Regions from separate parts of the Homo sapiens genome. Here region 2 is linked to region 1. The links come from fine-mapping of genetic effects on plasma protein levels. Region 1 holds a variant in brackets. A gene starts in the other region. All regions are shown on their forward strands.

Region 1 (12,200 bases):
AAATCATGACCGTGGAAGCTTTATTCATTCCATCTAAAAACTAGAAACTGTGTTCTCCCCTTCCTTCCTCCCTCTTGCCTTTTCTTTCTTTTGAGCAATAAATATCCTCTTTAAAATTTAATATAGCACAAAGTCATCATAAGTATAAAACATTGTGTACAATCTTTCTTACAAATGGCCAAATGCAGTGACCAACTTCATCCATCTCAATTGTTGTCTCTTGCATTATAGTCTATTCTGGTGTCTACATTCGGCCCACTATAATCTGTACTCCTGAAGCCTCCCCAAAGAAATGCTCCTAGATTAGTGAATATTTGAATAAATATTAGAATTTGGATTCAGAAGACATGAACATTAAACTGGTTTTGCCTCTGGTAGCTTAAAGTTGATAGACTCAAATACTACATATATATTATATATATGTAGTATTATATATTATATTATATAATATATAAATATATTTTATATATTTTATATATATTATATATATATATATATATATATATATATATAAAACATTGTAAAAACAGGGTGAAAGGATCAGTGACAGTGAGAAATCTAACAGCTCCAATGTCTTAAAGTCACAAGGACAGTCTCCCAAATAAACAGCCATCTTATTTAGCAGAATTCTGCTTCATTATAAATTTTCGCTAAAAGAACAGTTTTCCTATGACACGGAAGAAAGCTGTTATGGGTGTTTTTCTGGGTTTCTTGGACTTGGGAAGTTTTTGAGAGCTGTCTATGTACAGTTTCATAAAAGTGCACTGGGACAGTGTTAGAGCTGTGCAGAACTTGGAATCAGAGCTATTTTTGATTGATGTGCTGGGCAGAACTTCTCCTTGGCCTTGGTTTCCTAGGCCAAATGCTCACTCGTCTAAACTCACCTGGCTTATATACGTGTCTAAGAATAAGCTTTCATTTTTCTCCAAAGTTCAGTAGCCAGGAGAGTGGGTGTTGATCTATAAATTACTTTAGGCCTGCATAATTCCTAACAATGAAACACACTCATGTCCAAATAGACAATCGTTTACATGAAGTAACTTGGAGTTCTCAAGCTTTGAAATGCTTGATCTCTGGAACAAGCAGATGCCATAATGGGAAGTACATAGAAACCTCCTGTTTATTTTCCTTTTTAAGAGAAATTACACTTTAAACTTTCAAATCAGAGAGAAATAAGAGTGCTGCCCAAATGTACTGCATAGCAACAAGATGGAAGATTATCATTTGCTTGAATATTGTTTCACAACAGTAAAAATAGGTCTCTAGGCCATCATTGGAGGGAAGATCATAAGCCCATCAGTAGAGCCATCGCCACAGGCATATCCTTCCAAATGCCAGGTATCTCCTTCCCTATGTTCTTCTAGTTTCTCTTACTTCAAACCTTTCTCCTTTCCAATACGGGGAATGTTTATGAAATAGCTGGGTACTGCTTTGAGTTTTAACCATGATTTAACGTAGTAAATAATGGGATGGTAGTTTTGCAAATGCCAGACTCAAAATATAACCCTAACATTTATAAATAGACTGCTTGCCAATAGCAGACATTAGAGGAACCCACTCTCTATAGACCCAATGGCGTCAACCATCTCTTCTACACAGGTGATGCTCAAATATGCAGCTCAAATCCTCAAACTCTCTGCTGAATTGCAGTGCTATACTTTCAACAGTTTGCTACCTGTTTTCACTTGATCGTTCAGAAAAATTATCCACTGGTGGGGAGGGGTACTAGTCTCCAAAAATCTACCAACTCTTCTCTTTTTCAAGAATCATAGTTTCTGTTGAAAGAGCTTGCTTACCCAAGCCCGAGCCTCTGCTTCTCTCCCTTAGCCTCCACCTAGCAACAGTGACACTTCTACCCAACTCCTTCCACGGTGTGTGTGATGTTTTTCCTGATTGTTAAAGATGAGGTTCTTTATTCTCTTCTTTGAATTCCTATAGCATTTCCTATTTGCCTGTCTCATTTTAGTTGTTTTCCAAGTATGTTTTCTTTCCTCGCAAGTAGACTGGAAGCTCACGGAAAGCAGGGACTGTAGACTCCTGGTGCCCACAGGGTCAGTTTAGGGCCTTACCATTCATTGGTAGACACAAAATCAGAGGTTGACCCGTGGGACTAATCCAGCAAGTGTTTGATGTGCAATACAGAGTATTCTAAAAATATTTTTAGCAACTAAAAGTCAAAAAATGTCACAAGTCTAGATTAGGGTTATTCTCAGGAAAAATGAAAAAGAGTGGACGTTCTAGTACTACTGGACCCTCACCCCCATGGCAAATGTTCTGCACAGACGCCACCCCTTATGGGCTGGGCACCCACTTTCCAGCGTGCCTCGCTCCCGCTGCTCCCTGCTGCCTCACACCCTGCCATGGCCGCCACTGCCATCACCTCTCCAGGCTGTGTGAGCACCTGTGACGAGACCCCTTAGCCTGGAACCAGTGCTGAACAACTGAACAGTGGCAACTAGGATAGCCAGACACAAAACATGAAGCTCATTTTCTACCTAATAAATTCTTTTTATGAAATAAAAGTTTACATATAGTGCATGAACAAATGATAAATAATATGACACTAGTCTGCTCTATGTAGCATAATAAGTAAGTTGTAGGCAGACAGCTTGGTGGGAAAAACCACTGGAAAGACTCTTCTGGGTCCATTCATAGCTGGATGGTGCACACCTATTTTGGGAGGACACAGAAGCGTCTAATGAAGGAAAAGTTCTCCATGCTCTCTCATTCTCTATAAAAGGTTTAAAGTGATCATGTTTTATAAAACATACATATATTTTTAAAAACATTATATCATGGGAAATATCAAACATATGCAAATATTTAATACTCCCCCCCATACTCAACATCCAGAAAAAACAATTATTAACTCACGGCTTGGTTTATTTCTACTCAAATCAAAGATGATTTTGGAGTTAACTGCAGACATCATATAATATCATTCAAAATAATTTCAACATATAGACTCAGCCTAAGGATTTAAAATAGATATCCATGACATCATTATCACACCGCAAAATAACTCCTTAACATGTCAAATATCTAGTCCATGTTCGCATTTTTTATAGTATATTTGAATTACGATCTAAGTAAGCTCCATACATTGCAACTGGTTACACCTCTTGCCTTTGTTTTTTTGGTTGTTTGTTTGTTTCATCTTCCACTAGTTGCTTCATTTTTAACCTTGGAATTTTTTCTGTTGAAAAAAACAGGTTATTTGCCCTGTAGAGTTTCCCCAGGGTAGATTTTGCTAACTGCATTAATGTCATGCTGTTCAACAAGTTTCTCTGTCTTCTGTCCTTCCTGTAAACTGTTAGAGCTAGAGCAGGGGTCTGCAAGCTACGGCCCATGGGCCAGATCTGGCCACGCTTTTTTCTTTGTTTATGGCTGCATCTGTGCTATGATAGGGAGCTGAGCAGAGGTGCCCGGCTGCAAGAGAGACGGTATAGCCTGCAAAGCCAAAAACAGTTATTATGTGGCCCTCTACGTGAAAAGCCTGCTGACCCCAGCTGTAGGGACTGATCAGATTCAAGTCAATTTTCTCTTTTTGTAAGAATATTTTGTAGAGGTGCCGTAGAGGGTGGTGAAATCAGTAGACGGTAGCTGACTGTCTCTTTTTGTGGTGTTAGCAAGCTACTTATGATGACCGCCTAAGTGCACTGTTTTATTAAGAGTTACCAAATGTGGGTGCTGTTATAATTCTAACTTTCCTCCCTCACTTATTAATTAGAATATTTATATAAAAAGAAGTTTTCCATAATCAACTACTTGGTTGCCCTGAGGTTTATTTTGTGTTACAAGGGCAGGACAAATTCTTCATTCATTTCCCATATCCAACAGTTTTCAAAATAATTCAAAATAGGTTGATTGACCAGAGGGTTCTATTTTCTGTATCACTATAAACTCGTGTTTTTCAACATACTTTAAGGGTCTCGATCCACTGCAAATTTATTCTTATTGGTGCTCAAAATGAGCCTCTTCACACTCGTTCTTAAACCTTCTGATACAACCCTACAGTCTTGTTAGCCTCCTTGCTTTCCGGTTTGACTAGATGTTTAGGCTCATTTTATACATCTTCTGTTCCAGATGGAATCAGCCACTTCTCCAGGGAGCTCTGGTTCCTTTTAGTGAGAAACAGTAGCACTGAGCACCCTTATCTAATAAACCCTAAATGTTTTAAACTGTGGAAATGCTGAGCAACAGTGATAAGGAAAATCCAAAGTCCATTTACACCACTCTCTGGAATATATCCAAATACTGAAATTCAAATTATGAGAGCCAGACTGGTGACTGTTTCACACCGATGGCTCAAACATCACTGGAAAATCAAATTATGAAAGACCAGCTGCTGACACTGAACGGGTTTGCCTCCCATGGCCATCTAGACCGAGGGAGGCTCGCTGGATGATGACAAGATAAAGGAGTCTGCTGGGCATTAAAAGCTGGGCTGGGAGAATCAAAGTGGATTGCCCTCGTGTGACAGCAGCGAGCCTCCTGAATCAAGCCCAGCCTAAAAATGGAATCCTAACAGTGCAGATGCCAGCGACAAACAACCGACACACAGCACGGCAAGGTGAGTCCCCGGATTTATCTCAGCCTCTCCCCTCCCCGCCCCTCAGTGAAAGCTGACACCTTCTCAGGCACTGGGAAAGTCTCGCCATCCTTCTAGTCTCTGTGTTGCTAGGATCCTGGTTCTTGGAACCTAAGGCCCCTTATTAATCTACAGGGGCTACAGCAGGTAGAGAAAAACAGCAGGTATGTTTTGTCCGAATCATGACATCTCTCAACAGCTTTTCCTGCCAGGGCTTCCCAAAGAAATAAATGTACAGGCCGGGCACGGTGGCTCAAGCCCGTAACCCCAGCACTTTGGAAGGCCGAGGTGGGCAGAGTGCTTGAGGCCAGGAGTTCGAAACCAGCCTGGCCAACATGGCTTAACCCTGTCTCTATTAGAAATACAAAAATCAGCTGGGTGTGGTAGCACATGCCTATAATCCCAGCTACTCCAGAGGCTGAGGTGTGGGAATCGCTTGAACCCAGGAGGTGGAGGCTGCAGTGAGCCGAGATTGTGCTACTGCACTCCAGCCCAGGTGACAGAGTGAGACTCTGTCTCAAAAAAAAAACAACAACAAAACAAATGTACAGGCAAGGTTTGTGGCTGCCAAACTGAGACTTCTGAATGGCCTTAAGTAAAATCGTGCTGTCCAGCATTCAGACCAAACATTTCTCATCAGTACTTTGCCAACACTCAACGGTGTTTGGCAAGAGGCATTCTAGAAACTCTTCAGGAGGTGAGCCATGGAGATTAAGGCTGTCTCTGTAAGATGACAGTAATTGTTAATGTACAAGTAATCGGGGTTAAGCCTCACATATGGTCTCTGTCTCTCAAATCTGTATAAGCATTACTGAAATAATGTCCACCAAGACCTGTATTCATTTTCCAAACATCTACCACATTTTCTTATGATACCAAATCAGGTGAACAAGCAAACTAAAGTACATCTTGGTTATCCTTGGGAAGTGTACTAAGTACTAGCAAAATGACTCAGCATCTTTAAAATTTAGAGAACAAACA[G/A]GAAATGCCAACTTATCAAGGGGACAGCAGCTTGGTAGTTTTAAAATGTGTTTTTCAGGTTAGTGGAGAAAGACTTAGAGACATCTGAATTTTTTCTTAAATTTTTGTCTGCCTTCAAAGTGTATGCTCATTCTATGACACTAATTAATTTGGCCAAAAAGGAACCTAAAAATGTTTAGGAAATACCTTTTCAGCCGCTGAAAAGTATGGCAGCAACATCCAAATGGTCCCTTCAATGAAAAGACACATATTTTATTATAAAGTACACTCTGACATCAAGTGCCTTTTATCCATATATTATCCATTCTGAAATCTCTTTGGGTTGATGGGAAAAGGCTAGGGGGAAGGAGGGGATTAGAGCTTTGTTAGCAGTCTGTCTTTTAAAATTCAAGATTACAGGATATTCATTCTATTTTCCTCTAAGTTTCCGGGAAAATTCACCTAAAGTTCAAATTCCAATCCTACTACCCATTAACCAAGAGATCCAAGGCAAGTCACAATCTTCATCCGTCTTAGCTTTGTCCTCTGCCATATTAGAAATCATATCTCAAGGGTGGCCATGGAAATTCAATAGGTGCAAACTGAAAGACATAGTAACCAGCCTAATACCTGGCTCAGAGCAAGTGTTCAGTAAATGCTGGCTCTCTTCTTCTGGTCCTCTTCAATGCTCAAGACCTGAAATACTCTGATTTGTATTTCAGCAACCATTTAGAAAGTCTCAAGGATCAAGCTAAGAAAACAGTCAAACACTGCTACCTTGATAAAGCCTTGTCTGTATCTTTATAACTTCCTTAGACTATTTAAGACTCAGAAATAAATTAAGACAATGCTGGTGCGTTTTGCCGTCTCTGTAAGAGAACTGAGGGGTCCATTACTGTGGGAATGGAGGGGGAGGGGTGAGTATGTCCCAGAAAACCTTTAATAGTGCTGAGATATGTTTTTCGGTCTGCTGACTCAGATCATTAAATCTGGTTTACCTATGTATCAAGTCCTATAGACTTTTCTTTTTGATATGTCTTTAAGACGTAATGGTCCAAATGGCTGATTTCCTAATCCAGCAACCAAGAGGTGACCCAAGACATTATAGTGACATTGACCAATGGTTCTCAATCTTTAAAAACAAGGAAGTACCTTTTTAATTTCTCTCTTCAGCAAGAGACATGGAAGTACCTTTTTTAGACATAAAAAATATTACACATAGTTCATGACCATGTTTTTAGTATTGGTAAAAATACATAAAATACAACCATGAATTCTTAAACATGTCAATAAAATCCAAATTCTTTTTATCAGTACCTAGATACATTTTAAGAAATCATATTTTGAGATATTATTTATCAATCTATAATCAAAACTGGGCCATGAACATGATTTCTCTGATCCTTTAGAATAACCCTGATATGCCTATGGGCCTCCAATTCAGAGACGAGAAACTAACACTCTCTGGATTCTTGCCAATTAAAAAATGAGTGTCAAGTGTTAGAAATGTAAATTGATTTTTTAAAAATCTTTTTTAAAGGCAATCCCTAGTACGCATAAATAATCTTAATAATGTATCTATCTATTGGAACAGTAATACCCCTTCTATCAATCAATCCTAATGTGATAATAAAAAAGATTCAGGTCCAAAAATGTTTACTATTATTTTCAGTAGCAAAAGTATTGCAATATTCTCTGCAATAAATAATTGCAATAGCAATTATAATTGCAAATTAAATCTCCAATGGAGGGGACACTGTGGGTGACCTTTTACCAGCTTTGTGCACTTATCTCCTAGTTTTTATCTGCTTTGTTGCTAATGGTTTATACCTGTTACCTCGGTCAATTACTAGTGGGAGTTGAAGGCCACTTTCTTGGTTGGCCCTAAGTGGTTGAGAGTTCACAAACACCACTCCCTCCCTGAGGACTAACAGCCATTGACTACTGGTCTGCTTGTTAACTGACTCTCCAGAGCTCCCCATGAGCTCTGAGTGTGGGACTTCACCTGGTATTTCTTGCTTGGTTTCTTCCCTTTCTAATTCCCACTTCTCCCCTTCCCTTACTATTTCAACTGGGAGCACTTCCTAATGAATCACTTGCACTTTATGCTTGGCTCAGGGATTGCTTCTGGGAGAACATAACCTAAAATGTCCAACAATAAGGAACAGTTAATGACATCCATCCAACACAATATCCTTTGGCTGTTAAGAACCTATCTCTGAAGAAAACTTAAAGACATGGTAATACATTCTGGATATATCTTAACTGGAAAAAAGTATGGTATAATTAACTATGTAAAAATTATACACAGGCACAAATTAGCCAGGTGTGGTGGCGGGTGCTTGTAGTGCCAGCTACTTGGGAGGCTGAGGCAGGAGAATGGCGTGAACCCAGGAGGCAGAGCTTGCAGTGAGCCGAGATCCCACCACTGCACTCCAGTCTGGGCGACAGAGCGAGACTCCATCCCAAAAAAAAAAAAAAAATTATACACAGGCACAAAAAAAGACTAACAGGACAGATATTAAAATATCTATATAGTTATTTCTGATGGTGGGAATATGAATATTTATTATTCTGTATACCGTTATGTAGCCTTCAAAATTTCTGTAATGAAATCACCACTTATAACAAGCATCCCTTTTCCTTTTATCAGGAACTGAGACTCTGGAATAGCTGAAATGTGTTCTAAAGGGGAGCAGAGAAGGTTATGGAGCACAACAGTGGCTAAACCAAAGGATCATAAAACTTTAATAAAAATGGTATTTACTGGAAAAGGAGAAAGAGTTGAGAAATAATAAAGTGGAATCTTTTTATATACACTAAGATGAATGTTACACCCCATTACAACCCACAGACCATTTCATGTTGAGTTTTTTCAGTAAATGGTGGTGTTATTTTGGTGAACATGATTTGACCTATGTATGTGGCCAAATCTACATATTAGATATTTAATGGTGGGGATTATGACTTAATTTTTTTATTCTCTGTGTTTAGCATAGTACCTGGTATATAGTAGTAACTCAATATATGTTGGGTTTCCTTGCCTTTCTCCCCGGCTCACTGAAATAGGAACGTGGGAGCTGCTGAGTTCCTGCCTGATAAAACCCCATATCCTCCATGAACACTGCCAAAGTGGTGCTCTCACAGCCTAGAAAAGGCATCTCTGTTTATCCATAAGGCATGGACTCTCCTTGTGAGAAAAAGAGGGCCTCCCAGCAGACAGGACAGGCCCTCCTTCAGGTGGCCTTTCTGGGGTGACTTGCACAGGGCGGTTTGGAGACCTAATGCAGTGTTCACTTGCACTTTCCCTCTAGCTGGGTCCTGCTCCCTTTTCACGAGGAAGAGGAGGGAAGCAGGGGTTTGGGCTCCGTTTTGCTTAGCTAAGCAGGTAACTGGATAAAATTGGTTTAGAAAGCTCCCAGGGAGTAAGAACAGTGGTTGTAAGAATAATTTAGATTATATATGAATGTTTTAGGTTTTTCTCTCAGTGGCTGGCTGTTCTGTTTCCTGAACCTGAATGATAGAGCTGGCTTTGGCTTAGGAAGAAAAAGGCAGCCTGTAAGGAGTGACCAGGCGGTAGGTGGGGAGGACTGGTAATGTCATCCACGGTTCCCTACTGCTGCTTTGTGGGTTTCAGGAGGTGCACCGTGTCAGGAGGCTGGGGCTCCTCTATTCCTGCAGAGGAACAGCTGCCCAGTCACTCAGCCTGGGGTTCACACCTTCCGCAGTGCTTGTTGCAGGAGGTTCAGTGTAGTGTGTGCATGTCCACCTCCAGCTGCCAAACTTCTCAACAGGATGTAGATGAACCTGGGCTGACAAATTGGATAAGGTGGGCTGGCAGGCCAAAGCTTCAATTACCAGTACCACATCCTTTCCCTTCTAGGATACACAAAAGTAACTGGCCTCATTCCTTCCTCTCCCAAATAGAGAAGCCTTGGCTTGAAAATTCCAGGGAGTGGCCATGCGAGGTGGCTCATGCCTGTAATCCTAGCCCTTTGGGAAGCCAAGGTGGGTAGGTCACTTGAGGTCAGGAGATCGAGACCATCCTGGCTAACACAGTGAAACCCCATCTCTACTAAAAATACAAAAATTAGCCAGGCATGGTGGCGCACACCTGTTATCCCAGCTGCTCAAGAGGCTGAGGCAGGGGAATCACTAGAACCGAGGAGGCAGAGGTTGAAGTGAGCCAAGATCATGCCACTGCACTCCAGCCTGAGCAACAATCAAGACACTGTCTCAAAAAAAAAGAAAAAGAAAAAAAGAAAAATTCCAGGGAGAACCACTAGGTAAATTGGTATCAATGCAGTCATTGCATTGATGAGAAACAGTCTAGGACTTCAGACGGAGACTCTGATTCTAAACTAAGGAAAGTCAGAGGGAAAGTCAGAGGGATCATTGTGTGGCGCCTGGGGCGAGAGTGGGAATGTGTGTTCTCTTGTGCCCTAGAGCAGGCTTTCTTTATCTCGGCACTACTGACATAACTCTTCAGTGTGGGGGCTGTCTTGGGTACTGCATAAGGAAACCCATATCCACCTGAATACAGAAGACTCTAGATTCTCCTGGGTCTCAAGTGCCCAACAAAACCCACTTTGTTCCTTTGAAGTCAGGGTAGCATTTCCAAGGCTGCCGTGTAAACAAGTGTCCCCTATTAAGTTGGTTTATCCCTTAATTTATCCTACAAATATTAATGAAGCACCACAGTGCCAGGCCTGGCGCTGGGATGCTAGAGAGAGAATAGGCATGAAAAGGGGCTTGGTACCTGCCCTCCCACCTCTCAGAGTCTCAAGGCATGGTTCTCCACCTGGGTGACTCTGTCGCTCAGGGAGCATTTGGCACTATCTGAAGACATTTTTTTTGGTTTTCACCACTAGGTGGGGGCCAGGGAGGGTGGTGCCATGGCATCTGGTAGGTGGGGGCCAGGGAGGGTGGTGCCGTGGCATCTGCTAGGTGGGGGGAGGCCAGGGGTGCTGCTGAGCAGCACCCACAATGCACAAGACAGCCGCCTGCAACAAAGAATTATCCAGCGAAATGTCAGTAGTGCCAAGGTTGGGGAAGCCTGGTCTAGAGGGGAAACAGACCTTAATCAAATCGTCTTATTACTTGATATTTACTTTCATTTTCACGTATTTACTTTACAAATGCTCTGACATCGAGGAGAGTGTGTAAGAATGGAAGCAGAGGCACACCTGGGCCAGGGTGAGAGGCAGTGGCCAGGGAAGTGCTCCTGGGAAGGGCCACATGGGCAGACATTGGAGGATGGACTGGAAGTGACTGGACAAAGGGGCGGAGAGATGGAAGCAAGGAAGAGTATTCCAGACAGAAGCTCTCAAGTGCAAACAAACCTTGTGTTGGGAGGTACCATGGATTATTCTGGAAATATTTTTCCTTTCATACCATCATCACCTTACAGCCTTTGCAAGACAAGGGCAACTCTGTGTCCATGACTCCAACAAATAGGCAGCTCATCAAGACATACTGCAGAACCCAACCGGACAGAAACTGGAAGAATCATTCACACTCCAGTGTCTATCTTGTTCCATGGCTCTCTTTCTCACCACCCGGCACTGCGCATGACAACAGGCAGGAATCAAAACCCTAAGTTGACATTAAAAGCCTGAGTTTCATAAAACGAAAAACTGATAAACTGAAAAACTGATCAATTGGACCTCATCAAAATGAAAAGTTTTACTCTGCAAAAGATCCTGCAAAGATGATGAAGAGACTAGGAGAAAATATTCTCCAATCACGTATCTGTCAAGGGACTAGTATCTAGACTACACAGAAAACTCTTAAACCCCAACTGTAAAAAAAAATCGGATTAGGAAATAAAAGACATGGATAGATATTCCATTAAAGAGGATGTATAAATGGTAAATACGTCCATTAAAAGATGTTCAACATCATTAGCCACTGGGGAAATCCAAATTTTTAAAACCACAATGAGATGTCACTATATGTCCAGATGAATGGCTAATACTAGTGACAACACCAATTGCTGGTGAGGATGCAGAGAAACTGGATCACTCACACATTGCTGGTGGGAATATAAAATGGCACAGCCGCTCTAGAAAACAGTTTGGTAGGTCAGGTGCAGTGGCTCACGCCTGTAATCCCAGCACTTTGGGAGGCCGAGACAGGCGGATCACCTGAGCCCGAGGTCATGAGTTCAAGACCAGCCTCACTAACATGGTGAAACCCTGTCTCTACTAAAAATATAAAAATTAGTCAGTCGTCGCGGCAGGTGCCTATAATCCCAGCTACTCGGGAGGCTGAAGCAGGAGAATCGCTTGAACCCGGGAGATGGAGGTTGCAGTGAGCCGAGGTTGTGCTATTGCACTCCAGCCTGGGCGACAAGAGCGAAAGTCCGTCTCAAAAAAAAAAAAAAAATAGTTTGGTAGTTTCTGTTTATTATTTATTTTTTTTTAATGTAAGTTTGGCCGTTTCTTACAAAACTAAACATGCACTTAACTGTATAATCCAGCAATGCTGGACATTTATTAGAGAGAAATGAAAATCATTTCACATAAAAACCTGTATACCAATGTTCACAGCAACTTTATTTTTTAATAGTCCCAAAGTGGAAACATCCCAGATGTTCTTCAGTAGGTGAATGGCTAAACTGTGGTACATCCACACCACAGACTACTAC
Region 2 (12,200 bases), not on the chromosome of region 1:
GCCAACCATGCAAAGATCAGGGGGAAGAATTTTCTGAGCTGAGTAAACAGCTTGTAAAGTCCCTGAGGCAGGAATGAGCCTGTCTGTTGGAGAAATAACAAGAAGGCCAATGTCACTTGAGTGTCTGGAATGTCGTTTGAAGGTAGTAAATGATGGGGCCAGTGAGAGGTGTGGGGCAGATCATATAAGACCTCCTGGTAAGAATTCAGATTTTATTCCTATGTAATGAGAAGTTGTAGGAGGATTTTAAGGGGGGAAATGACATTCTTATTCATTTAAATTACATTAAGCCAATACCTTTATATGAGAGGAGTGCTATTAAAAGAAAGCTCAATGTGAAATGGTACAGTCAGGGGTAAGGAAGAACTGTAATTGCCCATAGAAACTCATAGAAAAGGACCTACTTGTCATAGCCCTAAAACCTGAGCTCTCTCAATGGAGACAGTTTACCAAAAGGCTGTTATAACACTAACTGCCTAACTTCTGGGTCTGAAAGGGTTTTTTTTGGATCTTTTGATTCTAAAATGTAACAAGCAACCAATAATACCGAACTATTTGTTGAAAAGTTAATACAGATTCTGAAGGGCTCTTACTTGGCTTGAAAATCAGAGGTCTATTCTTCAAATGAAGTTGATGGGGACATTTCTACAACTCGATTTAAAAGATCATTATTTCTATTAATCTTTCTCAGCAACTGTTACTTTTCCCAATCTCTAGGCATAAATTGTGCATGTATCTTATTTTCACGTTTAGTGACAAATTATTAAAATCATACTTACTAAATATCTACTTTATTTTTTTTGAGATGGAGTCCCGCTCTGTCATTCAGGCTGGAGTGCAGTGGTGCGATATCAGCTCACTGCAACCTCCGCCTCCTGGGTTCAAGCCATTCTCCTTCCTCAGCCTCCCTAGTAGCTGGGATTACAGGCACACACCACCAGGCCCAGCTAAGTTTTTGTATTTTTAGTAGAGACAGGGTTTCGCCATGTTGGCCAGGCTGGTCTCGAACTCTTCACCTCAGGTGATCTGCCCGCCTTGGCGTCCCAAAGTGCTGGGATTACAGGTGTGAGCCACCACGCCCGGCCAATATGTACCCATTTCACACATTTAGGAAGTTCCCACAAATGTGAAAATAAAACATAAGAGCATTCTCTCTGACTGTTGCACAGCCACCACCGGCCACCAAAACAATAATATACCAGTGAGAATTAAGTTCTCATGTGCACATATTATACAGATGTATATTAATATAATTAAGTTCTCATGTGCACATATTATACAGATGCATATTATTATAATTAAGTTCTCATGTGCATATAGTATACAGATATATACATATTATACAGATGTATGCAGTAAATGGCTCCCTACTGTACTGAACAAGAAATACTAAGTTCTTGTGCTTATAGAAGTACAAAACATTATTGTACAAAGGAATATCTAGCTGACCCTCAAGTAGCCTAGTGCTAACATTTAAGCAGACTTTAGCATCTTAAAGTAGTTACAAGGTCCCTTAATTTTCACTATTTTATAGTTACCACTATACACTTGAGCACTTGATTTCTTAAAAACTGATTATTACAATAACAAAAAATTAATCCAGACCCTTAATGAACATGTTCAGAGGTATAAAAATGGATAAGCGACATTTACTACACTTGAGGAACTCACAGTCTAGGTGGGAAAACAAGCCTAGAAACAAACAATTAAAACAACCACCACAACAACTTTGAACTACAGCATTAACATGATACAGTCAATGTACTGTGATGACATTTGAGAACTCAGCCTGGGAGGGTAAGTGGAGTGTGGGTAGATTTCCTGGAGAAACTGGCAACAGAGCTGACCCTTAAAGAATAATTAAGAAGATGAATTGGAGTGACTAGAGAAGTTTTTGAGATTCTAGATTACTGGTTAAATATAATTTGAATAATTAATAACCACCTACTCTGGACCCAATATTGTTTTAACTAGTATTAGGACAAAAATAACCATAGGTTATAGTCCTTGCCTATAGGACAACTTACAATCTATTGAAGAGGTAAGGTGTATACCTCGAATAAAATGCTGACAGTAGACAGTAAAGTGCAGAATGCAATAGATAATGCATTCATTTTTTCATTTAACACATATTTATTGCATATCTGTTATAAATATGTTATATACTCTTCTGGGAACTGAGGTTATGACATTGGACAAACACACATGGTCACTGGCCTCATGGAGGTCACATTCTAATGGATATTAATAGGGATTAATATATATGTAATATATGGGTTTAAAAAAATCGTCATCATCAATGTGTTTTGGGTAATAGCATTTCAAATCTTAACTCTGAAGAAAAGAATACAATATGCAAATAGGGGACATCCTTAACCAAAAAATGTTGTCAATAGAAAAACAGCTAAATAGTCCAGTAAAATCTTTGTATTTCTTAAAATATTCTGGATGGCAATTCATAACTATATTTTCCATTAATAGTCATCAATTTTAGCTAGTGTAAAATATGTATAGCAAATAGACTATTGTTTTCTGTTACAAGGCATTATTGACTCAATTTATTTAAACTTTTAACAAAAAAAGACATCATTTGGCAAAAGCAAAACAGATCTTCTAAGGATTCCCCAAATCTTAGAACATTATACATATTTAAATCTAAATATTTTAAATGTACATCTTTGTGAACTTTTTGAGATGTGGGAGACAGAAAACAATAGTTCACAAAGTACAGGATGTGGGCTAAATGTTTCACTGTCATAGAGAGGTAGGGAGAGATCATAAGAAAGTGACAAAGACACAGAGGCCAGCTGTATTTATCATTACTTATCTAAGAGCTGGTCACTCTCAGGTATTTACTATGACTTGCTAATAATTCCAAAAAGAGCTGTATTACAGAAGAGATCAAACCAGAAACACACCCAGGTGTTTCACAAAATAAAACTATGATGTTAGGCATATTATTCACACCACCCTTCCTGGTCTGAGATGTCACAATAATGCTATCAACCTACCTCATTTTAATCGACAAGTGATTATGGAAAGTTGATTTCTTTGAATTAAATCCATCACATCAAGAAAGCAGTGCCATAACAGTTCCAGTATTTATGGTGACCCACAAATCATTTGCCCCCTTGCATGCCTTGCTTCTCATCCTGTTCAGTTGCAAGACCAGAAAAGTTGAGGAAGGAGGTTTCCCTTCATGGAAGGTGATGGATTAACATAATTATCATATAGCTTCATTTAGAGTTGATAACACATCTATTCTGCCTCAAAACCTTTCCTGATAGCGATGCCATGAGCTGCATAATAATCACTATGCTTTGATTAATTATTTTGCCAAATAAATGGATAAATTAATTTCACCTACATACACTGATAGCCTCAGTTTCTGCAGGGTGTTGCTTCTTCCTATGGCAACTACTTGGAATCAAAATAGAAGTAATACAAATTGCAGTACTGAGCATACCAAATGGTTACAGTAAAAAGATTTCCATTTCAATTATCAGAATAAAAATATCACATGAAGTTTAGAACTTGGAGTGAAGAAAACTCCTAATTAAGGGAAACTTATGAAAGCCTTTAGCAAGTTCTTTGCTGAATGCATTTTTTGGTTTCTTGATCCTCCAACCAATCACATTGACAATGACAAAAGATATGCAAATTTAAACTGACAATAGTCAAGCCACATTGCTCTGACTCATACCAATAGGGACGTTTTCAGCATATATTCAGCTTGATTTTTACACTTGAAAGGGTGAATGTAACCAAAGAACATTTTAATAGTTATTCTTGGCTATAATCTGAAAGCTATCCCATAATCATTGACCAAGAACAATGCAAACAAGAATCAAATTTATTTTGCAAAATAAATTAACATATGAAACACGTGCATGATTTAAGCCCAGCAGAATTATGTGTTTACCCTGTCACTGCTGAATAATTGCATAGCAACAAGAAATATGCATTACTATGTTTGAATCACTATTGTGATTATACGCTTTAAGCAAACAAAACATTACGTTTTTGGTAGAATAGATCATTCAGGATAACTTGGGACTAAATTTTCCTTCCCGTTCCCTCAAAGAATCCAGACTAATATGTAATGATTGAATTCTCACTAAAAACTATACGGATGGTGTACTGAAGAATAATAACAAGCTGTTCAACCAAAATCATTTGTTTACAATGGAAATAAATTTTACCAAAGAAAAATACAAACATCCTATTATAAACTACTACTGAAAGTAATGCATAAAATTTCAGCTACAATTGTAAAAAACCTGAGAGTTCTGTTTGCTTTTTATTCTTCTGCCTACCTACTGATTGCCTATTACAGTCCTATAGTCTGTAATAGAAAGATTACAATATCAGCTTTGGAAACTGTAGAACTACTAAGTTCCAGTTAATGTGTCAAATAAAATAACAGTGATCTTAGTTCAGTCCCTAGTGGACAAAAGTAGAATAACTATTACTTGGCATGATTCAGCAGGCAATGACCTAAGTGAGTGTGACCACACAGGAACAAAATAGAGCATTTGTCCTTTCCCTATCTTTTATCTTTTTAAAGGGATTGCCCGGTTAACAGACTAACTTAAAGAAGCCTGATTGCATACCTATCTACATGTACCAAGTGAATCCATTAACAAGGGAGAGAAGCTTTTCACAAATTGAGACATTGCCTCCCTTCTAGTAGCATAGTCAGTTGAATATACTTATTCTCGGCTGCCTATTATTAAACAGAGTGCAAAGACAGAATGAATTGCAGAAGTGTGTTCATAATTTAATAGGCTTATCTTCAACAAAAACTTAAATGGTTTGTAGATAAATAACTGGATAAACTATTCGATTTGATTTCTATAAATTGAGATTACATTCATACTCAACATTAACATTCATCAAATAACATGGATACTTAAACTCGCCAGGTACTGTCTCTAACTACAATGCCCTGAGAAGGGAGGTATTTCAGGAATATAGTAGACTACATGCTGCGTTCAGCCCATATCTGCAGGTGCATGTCTTCCTCAACAGCCAGCATGCCCTCATCGTGAGCGAGCAACCCCTTTCCGACAGTTAACATTACAATGTATCTTTTTAATTTTTTTTCTCAAGGACAGAAGAAAAAAATATTTAACAGAAATCAGTCTACTATTCTACCACTTGCTGAAACTAACAGTTCCCTTTACATAAATATACAATTTCTCCAACCAAATATCATATTTTATATTTACTCTCACTTCATGTTAATTTTTATAAAGGTTAAAAAAACAAATACTTTGTGATGATTTGCCACCCCAGCGGCACAAAATTTTCTGGTGCAAAATCGATTTGATCTTATTAATTAATATTGTCATTATTATTTATTTTTCACCAACTTGCTTAAGAGGTACATACTTTCTTTCTTAAGGTAGTGTTTTGACAGAGAGAACCTTAATGCTGAACTTTAGAAAAGAGAAACCAAAAATGTCATAAAATTTGCCAGGGCTAGACACACAAACGGGGTGCCCCCACACATTCATAGGTTTGGGCAAGCCCCCAAACCTTGGCTTACCCAGGAAGCCAAACCCAGACAGCCGTCTTGCAATTGCAAACACTGCCCCCCTGGAGCAAAAGGTAAATACACAAATGCTCCCCTAAGGAACTTTAAGTTAGCTGCAGTGCAAGAAAGGAAAAAGGTCCGTGCTATTAGAAACTGAAAGCAATCACTTACTTTTTGCAGCCACTGAGTATAATTTTCCATCACATGTTCCAGATGTTGAAGTTTCTGGGAAGAGAAATCCGGTTCCACGTGTGGAGCATCTCTCTGCAGAGCGTTTGTGTTGTACTGGTCTGTCGTACTCTCACGACAGTTGCCATCGTGTTCTGGAAGAATGAAAGTGTAGGCACATTGCCCATGTTGAATCCGGTTATATCTTCTCCCACTGTTTTCTGGACTTCGGCGCTGATTGCTGCACCCTATGTGAGTCAGAATGGCAGCGAGGAAAGCAAAGGAAAGGAAAACTGTCATTGTACTGCCAGCACACTCCTTCCGTGCCTCTCGCAAAACTTGCTCCTTTCTTCTGACCTCTAAAACTAGTTCTTTATTTCAGGTAAAACTGCTTGTTTGTTTGACTCTTTCCCCCTCAAAGAAAGCGTTTGAAGAAGAATCATAGAAAACTAGCCATTTGTTAGCTTTGTTCTAAAATTTTAAAATTTTTTATTTCACTGCAATGATGTTTTTCTTCGTTAAAACTTGAGATATTTATTGCATAGTAGCTGAGATTTATTGTTTCCTCTCTGTGTGACCGTTCAGCATGGAGCCTGCCTGAGTCAGCTGCGTGTACATATTCTAGACCCTTTCCTCTACCCTATCTGCTGCAGATCTGCTATTTTCTCCCAGACCTCAGTGAGTTTTATTAAGGTTGCACATCCAAGCCAAGCTGGAAGCAGGCAGCCTTTCACAAGATGACTTGACAGGAATGCATGAGTGTGCCCCTATACTAAGGATTGCTGATGGCTTAGGGCGGCGGGATCGTCTTACAAATTGGCTAGATGCGCATGACCTCGATCATGTATGGCCCTCCCGCCCCTTTCCACAGACAATTGCCTTGAGCCTTTAGCAGATTCATGGCAAATCAATAAATAGAGCAGTCCACCTTAATACACTTTTGGTGTGCATGCTGACCTACTAAAATATAGCAAACTAGCAGTATGTTTTTAAAGTTACTATTTAGTCGAGGGACCCTAAGAAGAAAATTGGCATAATGTCCAATGGAATTATTTTTGATAGAGAATGATAAACCCATATCATTATTAAATGTCTTTAAAAAACATGTATTCTTGACTCTGAGGAAAAATATGTTAAAAAACAGTTTTTACAGATGGTATTCTTTCATTGTATTCACTTAGACTTTTAGGAGTTGAAGAAAATAATCAGAGAGGATCAAATTAGCAAGAAAATTAGCATCATTTGTTGCTCAAAGCAATATGTTGCACAAAGCAATATAGTATGTGCATATTAAAGAGGGTTATCTAAGTACCTTTTGGTATAGGGTTCTTAAATGAAACTGGTGTCCTGATCAGAATGCAACCCTTCATGTTCTGTGTATATAAATTGAGCAACTTCCCTACAAAAACAATGTGGCTACAATTTAAAGCAGTGGCTTGAGAATTATTAATTCCTGTGGTATATCCTAATCCTGTATTTTACAAGGATCTCTTTGGTGGCTATGGCTGTCTTTAACACTGGTGTGGAAGTTCCACATAAAAACCTCCTGTGGCTGCACAGACATACTATGTGAGAACAAGCATATATCAGGTGTGCTAACAGCCAGCAATGGGCTGTACAGGAGACATCTCTGTGCTTCTGTGAAGGAAGAAAGAAAAATTATCAGAAGATGATTTCCCACAGGCAGCGTATAAACATTTGAACAAAGGGACCCATAAACATAAACAGGCAATAATTGTAGAATTTAGGGAACGGCTTTGAGATCTTTACTAGATGCAGAAAACCTGAATTATGAGTTGGGATTTTCATTAGGAACTGGGAGGGCTTTTAGACAACTGCAGTCATGGTGTGAAAACAGAAGCCACAGCTGTCATCTCCCATGTCTTGGAAGGAGAACAGGGCAGTGGGTGAAGGTCCGTAGTGGTTAGAGATGGGCATTTAGGGAGAAGTTAGAGGAGAGGTCAAAACAAATTCCAGAACAAATGCGATTTACTTGGGGAAAGAAACCTTGCCGAGATTCATCAGTCCTTTCCACACCAAATAACAAATTTCTGATTGGACAGATATGGAAGCAAGTTATGCCAAACACAGCAATAAAATATTTGAACCACTTTTGCAGCCTCTTGAACTTTTGCGTGTCTCCTCATTGAGTCATGTATCACTCCTGTGCAACAATAATAATGGCATGCATTAAGACCTTACTGTTTTCCAGGCGAAGCACTCCTTACACACTATCTCACTTAATCATTCCAACAAACCTAAGATCACGGATATCATCCGTTTAACCCCATTTTATCAATGGGAAGACTGAGTCACAGAAAGGCTAACAGGATGTAATTCACAGAGCTGGCAAGTGATGGCGCCAGTATGTGAACTCAGGCAAACTGACTCAGAGCCTGTTTCAAACCACCAGGCCAGCCTGCTTTTGGAAATCTCTGCAAGGAATGAAAGCAATTTCAAAAGCGCTCCAGCTGCATTGATTTACAGTCCTAAACCAGGAGAAGTGACGTACCTAGAAGAAAAAGCACTGTTAAAACCAGAGTATCTCTCCAAAGTGATTCAGGCCTTTTCCAGCACACGCGTGCGCGCGCACACGCACACACGCACACACGCACACACACAGTGACAGGTAACCTATGCACAGCCACAAAGATGAAGTGCACTGGCAAAATGCAGGTTGTCTAAGAACACTTTCCAATAATGCTTGATTTGAAAATTATCCATGGAAAGAAGAGAGTCCAAACCCGACACCTAGAAGTGTTTTGCGAAGAACTAAATACAGCAGAAAATTGGCAGAAGACTAATGGATGAGTGGTGAGGTTTCTATTAAAGTGCTCCTGTGTTTTTAAATAGCCGAGACTGTTAAAAATCTGTTCCTCCACGTGTGTGTCTGTGTACGTCTCTGTGTCCTTATCCATGTGAATTTTCGCAATTAGAATAAATGAAAAGCAGGAATGCACAATTTCCTGAGGGAAAAGTAGACACTAAGAAAGAGAAGCCTGAAATGCAAATAAAAAAGGAGGGGTCGAGGGACAAAGAGACAGAGAAAAATGTAGAGACTGATTTATTTCTTTTGCAGAAAAACAAAATCAACCTTAAACCATAACACTGGAAGTACTAGTGTCATTCTGAAAAAAAATGTCTGAAGATGAATTTTAAGTAATTAGAAAACACAAGGATGTGCAGAATTGACTCCGGTGTTTTTGGAACTCCAGTTAAGGAGACTGTAGGTACATTTAAGGATCCTGACACACTAAAGATAATATGTCTTTGGGATCATGCATCTAAGCAACAGCAACACTGTTGTGTGTTGCTGATTATTCAGAAATGGGGCAGAATTCAGGATGCATTAAAATTTAGGGAGTAGGGCTGGGTTCAGTGGCTCATGCCTGTAATCCCAGCACTTTGGGAGGCCGAAGTGGGAGGATCGTTGGAGACTAGGATTTTGAGTACAGCCTGGGCAGCATAGGGTGACCCTCCCTGTCTCTACCCAAGATAAAATAAAATAAAAATTAGCCAGGTGTGGTGGCACGCCCAGGACCTGTGGTCCCAGCTACTCAGGAAGCTGAGGTGAGAGAATCGCTTGAGTCCAGGGGGTTGAGGCTGCAGTGAGCCATGATTGCCACTGCACTCCAGCCTGGATGACAGAGTGAGACCCTTTCTAAATAATAATAATAATAATAAGCGAGTAATAAGAACAAGCCAATTAAAATTCATCTACCACACCTCCATGAAGGATAAAATATTTATAAAGAACTAAACAATTCTGTTCAATTGAATTCTGTGGTAGCTTGAACCCAAAAGCTTTGTGTTTTATTAGAGATCTGGAATAAGGAAGTGTAGGCTTTAAGGTTTTGATCTCATATTTACAAAGAGTCCTAGTAAATGTCCCACTTAGTCTGAAATTTCCAAAGGGACCAAGAGCCATTTATACCAGAACTTAATGTGCCTAAATCTATCCTAAGAAACAGTCTTTGATAATTCTTTGGTAAAGCTTTCTTAATTTCTCCAGGTCCAATAAATGCTCTCTGTGTTAAATTTCAATAACCTTCTCCTCATGTCTCCAAAACTGCACTGCTCACGTTGCTTGCTAATTGTTGCCTTTTTTTTTATCTGTCTCTTGCTTTTGCTGTGAGCTGCTAAAGTGATCTTCTCTTTGTCATCATTGATTCCTCAACATTCACTATGCACTTTGTCTGAAGGAATGAAAGAATAAGCAAATAAATGAATGAGCTGATTAATGACTCAGTTGATGCAACTTCCTGACTCTCTATCTGGTTACTACATGACTGGCCACATTCATTGCATTTGTTGGGTGAGTTTGCCTAGAATCCCTAGGCATGAAGAACTGAGGATAAAGCCAAACTTATTCTAAAGAATGAGTTAGACGCAAGAGCAAAGTACAATAATAATTCATAGTATTTTTTAACACTTAACAAATAATTTTCTCATCTAATGTTTACAGAACCCCCATAATTATGTAATATTATATATTATTATTCCCATTTTGCTGATGAGAAATGTGGAGCCATAGAGATTAATCGCCCAGGATCTATGATCTCTTAGGAGGCAGAACAGGAATTTGATCCTCAATCCATCTAACTGTGAGGCTCACATTCATTTCCCACTGAGCTATATTGTTTATGACAATACTTCAGTATTGAGAAAATATTTCTTATAATTTAGGGAACAAGAACAACATGGTGACTTCCCCCTTCAGAGGTCCCTTTCCTCTGAAACCCAGGGCTTTCACAGATTCATGTTATGATCTTCCAAAACAGGGATAATATTAAATCAGGATGCACCAGTATGGTAAGATATGCTTACCAACAGCCAATCTGATTAATCGGATTATACTTTAGAAATATTCTAAATGGTTGGTCCTATGCCATGTCATCTGTTAGATATCTTGATCATCACTCCTGCTCTACAATAAAATCAAAATATATGAAAAAAAATAGTATTTATTTCTCAAAAATACCACCAGGCAATGAGATTCAAGGAAATAGTCCTCTGGTATTTATACAACCACTTATAGGGGAAAAAGGGGTGGGAAAGTATTCTCCTACTTTGTGTTCTGAACACAATGTGATTCACCACACCAAGGGTGCCATATTCTGTGACTCTGCTCAGGCACTTTTAGGGATCAAGACTATCATCAGGCCTATAGAAGTGGCAGCTCTATCTAAAAGGAGGGAGGGCACTTGGCTGTAGCTCCTGGAAGCAGAGCCAAGACACCTTCACTCAACTATGTAGGCAGCAAAGGTATCCACAACAGTTGGAAATATCACAGGGGACAAAACCAAAAACAGAAGAAGATGGAGGATATCATCTGGTAACTGAAGGCACTTCATGAGTACATGCAAAATATCCATTTAGAACTCCCAGAATAACTGGGAGGATGCTACAAAAAGCTGGAAACACTGCAGCAAGTGGGATGAGGACTGGAGGCATATAGATAAGTGAGGAAAATAAAAATTATCATATAAATATTCCTCTGTCTTTTGATGACAGAAATTTCTGGTAATTGTTAGGTATCTTGTTTGTTAAGTAGGTTTAATTTAATTTTATTTTTGAGACAGGGTCTCGCTTTGTCACCCAGGCTGGAGTGCGGTGGCATGATCTCAGCTCACTGTAGCCTCTGCCTCTGAGGCTCAAGTGATCCTTCCACCTCAGCCTCCCTAGTAGCTGGGACTACAGGCATGCACCATCGTACCCGGCTAATTTTTGTATTATTTTGTAGAGATGGAGTTTCACCATGTTCCCCAGGCTGGTCTCGAATTCCTGGACTCAAGCAAACCACCAGCCTCGGCCTCCCCAACTGCTGGGATTACAGGCGTAAGCCACCAGGCTCAGCCTGTTAAGTTGGTTTTAAACTATAGATATACAAGGTGGAAACCGCTGAGACTGAATTAATTTGCTCTACCTAAGAAAGGAGAGAAGGGATTAAGAGACTCAGGAAAAGATCTAGAAGTGGAGGACTGGAGCTAGAGAGGTTTAGAGATTCTGTGTCAGGCAGAGCTGCTGAAAGAGAGAGGAGGCTTGTGGCTGTGTGGCCATGAGAGACTTGGGAAGATATATCAAGTAAGGAGATTTGGAGTGAAATAATGTTTCCAGTGAGATCAAATTTGTCTTATCTGTTTCAGTAAAATATATACTTTGGGGCAAATGACTTCTTAAAGGTGAATAAGAGGAATTGAAGAATTGGTCTTTGCTTCAAGCATGGGAACAGCTAACATATGGATTACACAGACTATTAATGTGAATGCAATTGAAGTCATTTGTTTCAGGTTTGTTTTTCACACTAGATCAGAGTCCCAAATGCTAGAACTGTGTCTGTCTTATTGATCTGTCTGTCCCCTTTTCCTGGCACAGAGGATGAACTTTATAAATATCCAGCTGACTGTCTGATTCATTCACCTTAAATCTCAATGATGAGATGTGAAGACACAGAGCCAGTCCCTTACAAGTTTTCAGGTGCTAGACTTGCATA

Alleles and levels. Positions count from the first base shown, and alleles are read on the strand shown. Strength reflects both the effect of a copy and how common the allele is.
As copies of G replace A in region 1, the plasma level of the protein whose gene starts at base 6,367 in region 2 goes up (weak association).

Evidence for each region. PIP is the chance, under the fine-mapping model, that this variant and not a neighbour inherited with it causes the effect. The UK Biobank Pharma Proteomics Project read protein levels with antibody pairs (Olink). The fine-mapping took linkage between variants from a reference panel, not from the people measured, so its PIPs are less certain.
Region 2: it holds the start of ANGPT1, and the variant in region 1 is fine-mapped to the plasma level of the ANGPT1 protein (UK Biobank, PIP 0.91).

The regions. Positions count from the first base shown.
Region 1 is chr2:224,004,585-224,016,784 of GRCh38, forward strand. All of the region lies in intron 1 of SERPINE2 (serpin family E member 2), which reads right to left. LOC124907990 (a long non-coding RNA gene) reads left to right here and starts at 4,293. Exons shown (of 2, transcript XR_007088102.1): 1 at 4,293-4,573. RefSeq lists enhancers at 4,714-5,913, 4,838-5,413, 10,504-11,003. The variant G/A (reference allele first, on the strand shown) is at 5,573.
Region 2 is chr8:107,491,552-107,503,751 of GRCh38, forward strand. ANGPT1 (angiopoietin 1) reads right to left here and starts at 6,367. Exons shown (of 9, transcript NM_001146.5): 1 at 5,711-6,367. The coding sequence starts at 6,007. RefSeq lists a silencer at 9,866-10,066.